3 separate regions of the Homo sapiens genome follow, and all the other regions are linked to region 1. Evidence: fine-mapped expression QTL. A gene starts in region 1. Each other region holds a variant in brackets. All regions are shown on one strand. Distances are between the middles of the regions.

Region 1 (2,766 bases):
CAGAAGGACACCCTCCGGGGGCCTAAAGCGCTCCCTATCGCCACTCCCGGGGGCTTTATCACCTCAAGCTACTTCCCACGCTCCAGTCACCATCCCTGGATGGTTTCGGAAATCTCTCTGGCTCTCCAAAAGGCACCCCTTGGCCACGTCAAGACACCGGTCCTCCTCAGACCTCTCCCGTCCCACTTTCATCCCCAGGAAACTCTAGTGTCAGAAACTTTGAGCTCCATTGCACTGCAGGTGCTGTCATTAGTCCTGCAAGCCGTGGCGGGCCAGCCCCGCCGCGCTGCCTCTCGGGGTCAATTAGCCCTTTGCCTGCCCAGGTACCTGGGGCTCGAGCTCTCCAGCAAGCAGTGGCCGCGCACCCATCGCCGCTGCCGCTTTCGCCTCGGGTGGATCCAGTGACCCGCAGGCTCGGCAGCCTGGCCGGGCAGTAAACAGACAAGTTTGAAGGACTCCGGCCAATAGCAAGTTGAACTACAGGAAGAACTCTTCCCGGAGCCAAACACGGCAACCGACGGGAAGGCCGGGCTTCTGGCTCAAGTGTGCCAAGCCTTTTTTTTTTTTTTTAAGAGGTCAGGCAGGCGAGTAAGCGCCCCTCAAGTCAATGGGGAGAGGGCTCCGGGAAGCCGGCGGAAGAGGCCCAGAACTCCGGGCCCCGGACCGAGGCGCGCCCGCCTGCTGCACTCCGGCTGCCCGGGCTGGGCGCGAGTTGCGTCTGACGCCACAAGGCTCGGGCGACTGGGGGCGCAGCGGTCGCCAGCAGCACACACAGGTGCAAAGCCCGATTTTCTGAGCGCCGCTCTCCACCGCCCTTCGGGCTCGGCTCGGGAGAGGCCCAGCCAGCACCGCCCCAGGACCGCGGCCCCGGCGGTGCGGGTTCTGCCCTCGGGGACCCGACAGGGACAGAAGAGTCTCCTCTGACTGGGGATTTGGGTCTCCCATGTCCCGAACAACAGGCGCCACCAGAAGGGATCCCGCTTAGGCTCCCAAACAAAACGCTCGGGAAAGAAAAGCAGGGGGTTAAGGAGAGAAAAGAGGGACTCAGAGTGATTTTTCACGATAAATAAAGCAAACGCACACATACAGGGTAAGTTTCAAATGGAAAGAGGGGTGACCGAAAGCCCAGGGAAGAGGCCCCGGTCAAGCGGTCCCTCCACGCCTCCCGGGATGGGTGAAGAGGGCAGGGGAGCCACTCGAGGCAGCCCCGCCGGCGGCTGCAGGTTCGGCGACCGGAGTGCCAGAAGGAACCCACCTGACTGAGAATCGCTGGGCTGGACGGTCCCCGCCGCCACGAGAAGGCTCACCCAGACCCAAAGTCCTGTCGCCGGCTTCATTTTTTGGAAGTCTCAGATCCCGTGCTGACAATTACATGTCCAAATGGCATATCCCCCTTTCGGGCACGCGGAGGAGATCCCCCAGCCGGGCGCGCGTGGGGGTGCGAGGGGGGCGGGCGCGGCGCGCGCGGTGTGGCGACTCCCAGGGCGGGCGACCGAGTCCGCGCCCGCGGGTCCAGGGCCGGGGCCCGAGGAGGGGGCGAGTGTGAGCGCGTGTGTGCGCGTGTGGGAGTGTGCTCGGTGTGTGCGCTTGGCGCTCTGGGCCGGACTGTGCAGCTATTTCCCCGCGTGAGCCTTCGCTTGCTCGCTCCCTCCTCACTTTCTCTCTCTCTCACTGGTTGGTCAACAATAAAAAAGGAAGGGGGGCGAAAGGTTTCCAAAAAAAGTTGATTGCAAAGAGGCGGTAGGTTTCCGGCCTCTCCCCGCAGCCGGGCTATGTTCTGCTCCTTCTTCAGTTTCCTTGCACCTCCAGTCCAAATCGGGAGGGGAGCGGGGCGGGGGGAGCTTCTCGCTTCTCCCCGGATCCCGTCCTTCTTTTTCCTCTCAGCTTTCCTCACACTTGTCCGGCGGCTGCGGTAATTAAAGCTCCGAGCGTCATTTCCAGCGCTCCGCGGTCTCCAGCTGCAGCCCACAGAGAAATTAATAAGACTCCAGAAAAAAAAAAAAAAAAGGTGCGGGGGGCGGTGGGAATAAAACAACCCTCCACGCAACCAGGCCGGCTCTGCTCAGCCGCGCAAACCCCGCCCATGCTCTGACCCAACTAGCCACGCCCTTCCCCCCCCCTTCCAAAGGGAAATCTTATTGGCTCAGCCACTCCCCAAAATCCTGGGCCTCCGGAGTTGGGAAAACACCTGTCAGGGAAAGGGAGCCTCTTGGTGGGGGCAGGGGAAGCTGGATTTAAAGGGCTCACCGAAGCCATGCACTGAAGCACTCGTCTTCCCTCCCTGGCAGAGGCCTGGGACAGCTGGCCTGCTGAGTGGACGGACCATTGGAGGGCCGCTTACGGAAATTTTTTTTTTTTTTAAACAAGAAAGTCAGCATTTTCTCCGTTGCCCCACGGTGCTCATCTACAGACAAGACTTTCCCTAGAAATAAAAGTCAATGTTGCTTTCAGCAAAAAGCCTCCGCCCGCAGTACTCTGCCACTCATGGTCCACAATTAGAAAGTACTTTAAAAGTGTGTACAGCAAGTAACTGGTAGCCCCTGAGGATTAGGTAGTGGTAGGGGTATAATCACCGCCCCGCCTCCCGCCCCCAGTTATGCCATCTCTCCGATTACTCCCACATTTCTAAACTGACCAACATTGAGCCAAACTAAACTTTCACATTTATAAAGGCATATCCTTTGATTTTTAGATTTTATGTTTTTTTTTCACCTTTGGAGTTCATTCTTATTAAGCAGATTCTAGTCCAAAGCCACTGATTTGATC
Region 2 (2,766 bases), 84 kb before region 1:
ATTTGTTTTTAAAACATAAATATTTTAAGACATACTACAATTATTTCCATTCAAGGAAATGTAAAAGGTAGCATTACTAATATAGTTCTCAAAACTGTATAATTTCTAATAGAAAAATTTAGTTCTCTGTTAACATTTGTTAATTTATCTTACTGGAACAAATAGACCCTACAATGAGATAAAACATGTTCAAACTCTTGCTCTGACATTTTAAAGTTGTATAACTTGGGGCAAATCACTCGACTAGTCAAATACTTCTTTTCAACTAGAAAACAGGGATTATATCTACATACCCACAGGATTGTTATGAGGATTTTCTGACTATAAAAATGTTATATGATGATAATCAAGTATCAAGCATATAACTCTATAGGTGTTGCTTCTTATATCTTCCCCTTACCCCCTCCGCATATAGACTCTAACCCTTGCAAGTCTACTTTGTAAAGAAAGACCTACATTGATTTCCCATTTAAGGTCCATGGGACAAAAAGAGATGCTCAAAGGCAGACAGAAGTGATACAAACTCCTTCTGCCTTCAAAAATGGAGATATTCAAGAATGCACCCAAGCTATATCTAGCAATTGTACTCATTGATAGAACAAGTAAGAGAATTTCCAAAACAAATAACACATGATCAACATTGCACTTGTTAGGTTCAGTGTTTTGTTTTTTGTTTAAATAGGGTTCTTATTTAAATATATTGCATTGATATCTACCAAAATTTGATATTAGGTTAATTTCTTTTGTTTTTGTGAGATTTGTGTTAAGCAACTTGTCACCTCTTTGTATAGCAAACGAGGTATGCTTTTTAATGTTTCCATATGATTATTACACCAGGGTCTTTTGTTATTGTTGTTATTTTAAAATTTTAAAATCATTTTACCTAGTTACCATAGAAATGTTAGTTACACATTGCTAAAAGAAATCATGAAATGAGAATGTAGGACTACAGATTTTAATCATGTTTAACATATTTAAACGTAGTTTTATCAACCTGTCAGACATCTTTGACAAAGAGTACTAGAAAAAGTATTTTCTCTTTTCTTTCCAGAATCACTGGGTGCATGAATTGCAAATCTTCCATATATAAACAGAAACAATACTATATTCCTTAACTTTTTTTTTTTTTTTAGACAAAGTCTCACTCTATTGCCCAAGCTGGAATGCAGTGGTGCGATCTCAGCTCACTGCAACCTTCACCTCCCAGGTTCAAGCGATTCTCCTGCCTCAGCCTCCC[C/T]AGTAGCTGGGACTACAGGCATGCACCACCATGCCCAGCTAATTTTTGTATTTTTAGTAGAGATGGGGTTTCACTATGTTGGCCAGGCTGGTCTCAAACTCCTGACCTCATGGTCTACCCGCCTCGGCCTCCCAAAGTGTTGGAATTACAGGCATGAGCCACCATGCCTGGCTATATTCCTTAACTTCTATAACTTACTGTGGTGACGCACTAGGAAGTTGGCAATTTGTCTTCTTTTCCACTGAGAAGACAGACTAATTTAAGACAATTTCTCTTTCACACAACCCAAAACATGCTGTCATATTGAAAGACTCAATGAATGCTTAGCATGAAAATGCCAATTTTAAAAGCTAGCTATTATCTGTGGGTTTTCCCACCTCTGCACTTGATATATTTCAGAGGAGAGTATTTATGCATAAACCACAGACTTTGTTAGAATCTCTATAATAATATGAAAACTTTTGATTTGTGAGCTCCTGTGGAAAAATGAAAATTATTTCTGCAATAAATAATATTTTATCTGTTCTAAAATAGCTTAATGATTCCCATAAGTCTATTATGAGAACTCTTCATTAATCAAAATTTTCACTTCTAGTAGACATAATCACAATCTATTAAATTTATATTTCCTCCAGTGCTAGGAGTAAGAGCAGCAAATAGGACCAATGTAATCAAGTATTGTGGAGAGCACATCAACTGTATAGGTAGTTAAATCACTTTCACTCTAGGTCTGTTTCCACATCAACAAAGTGAAGCAGTTGGACTCAATTTTTGTGAAAACCAGCTTGATTCTACAGTTCCTTTAGGTTTTTTTTTTATTCTTCTTCTTTTAATAAAACTCAGGAGAAATGACCGCCACCTCACTTCATTTTAGGGAAAACAATGTGTGACACACATTATAAAACAGAATGCAAAGTGTCAATATTATTATGATATTAAGATGTAATATTCATTTAGCATGACGAATTTGATCCAAATCAAATAGGTCGTGAGAAATTCTCCATCTTCCCACCTTTGGGGGCTAAGTCATAACTTAATGGACCTTGCTGCTGTATTTGAATTGAGGACTTCATTACCTTTTTCCATTCAAGAAACAGTAGAGACTTTTGTTTACATGATGCTATTTTCTCATTTTTCTCCCACCTTTCCAACAACCTGATCACCTTCAAGGGGTTATTTTTAACACCTAGGTGCCTCCCAGGATGTAAGGCTTCAATCATTCAATCACCTATTATGCTTCTTTCCATTCTCTCATTAGGTGATCTCATGTATGAATATGCATCACCCTCCTAATCTTATCGTTTTCTCAGTGTCAGTAGCAGCCTCTAGCCCTGAGTTAGCCAGTAGAACTTTCTGCAATGATGAAAATATTCTCTCTGCATTGTCCAATATGGTAGCCACTAGCCACATGGCTGTTGAGCATGCAAAATGTGGCAAGTAAAAAACTGAATGAGAAACTGAATATTTTATTTTGACACTCTAAATTCCTTCACCTTAAAAAAAAAAGTTTTGCTGTGTACTCAGCTCCT
Region 3 (2,766 bases), 420 kb before region 1:
AGATACTATCAAAGCTTTGAAAATTCTATTTAACCCAAAATGTCTGCTTTGGCCTAAATGACATGTTACAATATTATTCTCTCTGTGTCCTTTTTAGCATTCTTTATCTCACCCTGCTAAGAGGTCATCATGTTAATGCAGTATCTAAATATGTAACATTTTACCACAAAAGCAATTTTACATGAAATTAAAACAGAAAGAATTAAAGAAAAAGTTCCATCACCATCTCTTTTTTAATGCTTGTTTACCCAACCAATAGTTTCTTGAAGGTACAGTTTCCTTGAATCTAATGATGGCGAAGTCTAGGTATTTCAATGTTGATCTTGTAATCCTCTCTTGCCACCTGTCTCAATTAGTGACATGGAAGAAAAACATAGACTACTGTGCTCAATGAATAGATACTTACAGATTACAAATGCTTGATACAGAATTCTCATTTACTTGTTCACCTTTTGAGTGACAAATATACCACTTCATTATCTTACAAAGTTTATCAGGAATACAAATTCAGGCTTGTATAGTAGGAACTATACAGTCAGATCAAAATGTGTGCATAACTGAAATATGCATGCTGTATCTGAAAATGTTGCACTTAAATCATCTTTTTTGGGAAATATGAGATTGTAATTCATGTGGACCCACTTTGTTATGTCATAGATGTTTAATTTAAATGGTGTTTTCCTCTCTAATGTTTCTAAAATATGACAAGTTTTCTCATCCTGATTCTCTCTCTCCAACATAATTTCTGCCACACAAGTCATTCTATCTGGTATTTAATAAGCTAAAAATAAATATAGATGGGTGTTGGTAGCTAGTATTTGAACAAACTATTCAGTAAATCATTTTCTAACTCAAAATAATAAGTACTGTATAAATTATCTATTTATTTTGAAATATGTACTCTTCAATGTAGGGTTTTTCTAAATCATGCTATGCAGCAGACAGCTTAGCCCGGACACAGAGTTAAAAGTACATGAGGAAGATATGGAAAACAGACACAAACATAAAAACCATCCCCCACACTGTTGGATTTAATTCTGGTCATGTGCTTCTAATTGCCAGAGGACAATGAAAAGGAAGCACTAAAGCTAGAAGTAGGCTAAACGTAAATATTTTAGAATTTCATATTAACTCTCAATGGTTGTTCATCCTTACTGAAAACAGGGAAGGAATAGATCAAGACATGGTTACTTGTTGCAACTTGAAACTCATTGTCAAACATCACTCCTGACTTTATTGTAACAAAACTGTGCTAATGAAGCCAAAGTCTTTGGCTGCAGTAAGATTGGCAGTGTTTTGCTGTCTGAGTTGCAGCTTTCTCTGCCTTCCTACAAATGTTTGTCATTGGTCAGAAGAGGAATATTCATGAGAAAGAGAATGAAATAGTATAGATCCTTTACTAGCAGTGGAAAAGTAATGCAAATTTTATGTCTTACGAAGAGTAGTTGAAAAGCAACATCCTCAGA[AG/A]AATCCCATACATATCCTAATAAAAGAGGATGACAATTCCATAGCATTATAAAATGTTAATTATTAACTAAAGACAAAGGCTATATTTGAATTTAAAAATAGGACATTTTCTCTGGTAGAGAAAAATAAACTATTTGCATGATTTCTCCAAAGTTTTTTTAAAAAAAAATAGAAATTTTTAGATGGCATTATTTCTTGTACATTCAAAAACAGCCATATAGCTCTGCCAAATATATATAAAAGCAAATTATGTTTTTCAAATGTGTTACCTTTTCATAATAACATGCATTTGTTATTCATTATCTGAGAGAAGTTATCTTTTTTAATCTTTTTGCTTCAAAAAACTATACTTTCTGACTTTTTCAAAGTCATTGCCTTTTACTATCAATAATAGAGTATTAATGTTATCTTAAAAGGCATCTTTATATATTACTTTATTTTTATTCATTTATTAGAAATAAAAGACATGTATAATGATTAAAATTTAAGGTTTCTAGACTACAGCATAAGGAGTTCCAATGAATTACGATATTGTAACTATTCCACATCCATGCATCAACTGTTAAATAAATTCATCTCCTTATAATCTTAATGTATACTATTTCTAAAATAATTTGCACACAACTAAATTCAAGCCACAGATTAAAAATTATTACCCGTTATAGCAATGACTGAGGATAGGTGTTAACACTCACTATATGATCTACATTTCATAGTATACTTCTTTACACATAATTGACACATTATAGTTATTTGCTTAAAGTTAATATATAAAACAGAAAATAAATTTAAAATGTAAAAGCTGGTGGGTCAGGCACCTTTTTAGAAGCACTGAGTTATTAAGTGCCAGCAGTAGCAAAGAAGACCAATGGAATGACAAAGGAGAGAAAGCTCCCAAGAATTCTAATGAGGGTAAAAGGTCTAATAGTTCATTCCCATTACTTACTACATTTTGCCTTGTTTTAAAGAGTTCACAAAGTGTAAGACAATAGCACAAAATCTGTGATTTTTATGCCTCGCTGCTTTCTATTATATGTCTTAACCTTGTGATGGTGATAAAATACATAATAAATAAGTTTTAGGGCCTTTTTCTAGCCAGCAATGTGGTTCCTTGGTAGTTGAATGTTAAACATAGTAAACTGGATTTCTCTTCCCAAAAAGAAATGCAAGAACTGGAGGTCAGAAGAAAGCTGGCATGAAAGGTGTTTACAGAGATAAGCATCAAGATTGCTGTAATAAAAGCGTCTTGAAAAGAATGCATTTAAAAGCATTTCAACAAAATGTATCTAACAAAGATTA

What was found. PIP is the estimated chance that this variant, and not a neighbour inherited with it, causes the effect. A credible set is the group of variants that fine-mapping cannot tell apart.
Region 2: its variant is the best candidate, but not a certain one, in a credible set for the expression of ERBB4 in tibial nerve (GTEx, PIP 0.69).
Region 3: its variant is the best candidate, but not a certain one, in a credible set for the expression of ERBB4 in lung (TOPMed, PIP 0.52).

What each region holds. Positions count from the first base shown.
Region 1 is chr2:212,537,194-212,539,959 of GRCh38, forward strand. ERBB4 (erb-b2 receptor tyrosine kinase 4) reads right to left here and starts at 1,609. Exons shown (of 28, transcript NM_005235.3): 1 at 1,256-1,609. The coding sequence starts at 1,337. RefSeq lists an enhancer at 140-640.
Region 2 is chr2:212,452,829-212,455,594 of GRCh38, forward strand. All of the region lies in intron 1 of ERBB4 (erb-b2 receptor tyrosine kinase 4), which reads right to left. Among named protein-coding and RNA genes, the nearest start is that of MIR548F2, 28 kb to the left of the region's middle. The variant C/T (reference allele first, on the strand shown) is at 1,238.
Region 3 is chr2:212,117,094-212,119,859 of GRCh38, forward strand. The region is part of intron 2 of ERBB4 (erb-b2 receptor tyrosine kinase 4); the gene reads right to left. Among named protein-coding and RNA genes, the nearest start is that of MIR548F2, 310 kb to the right of the region's middle. The variant AG/A (reference allele first, on the strand shown) is at 1,467.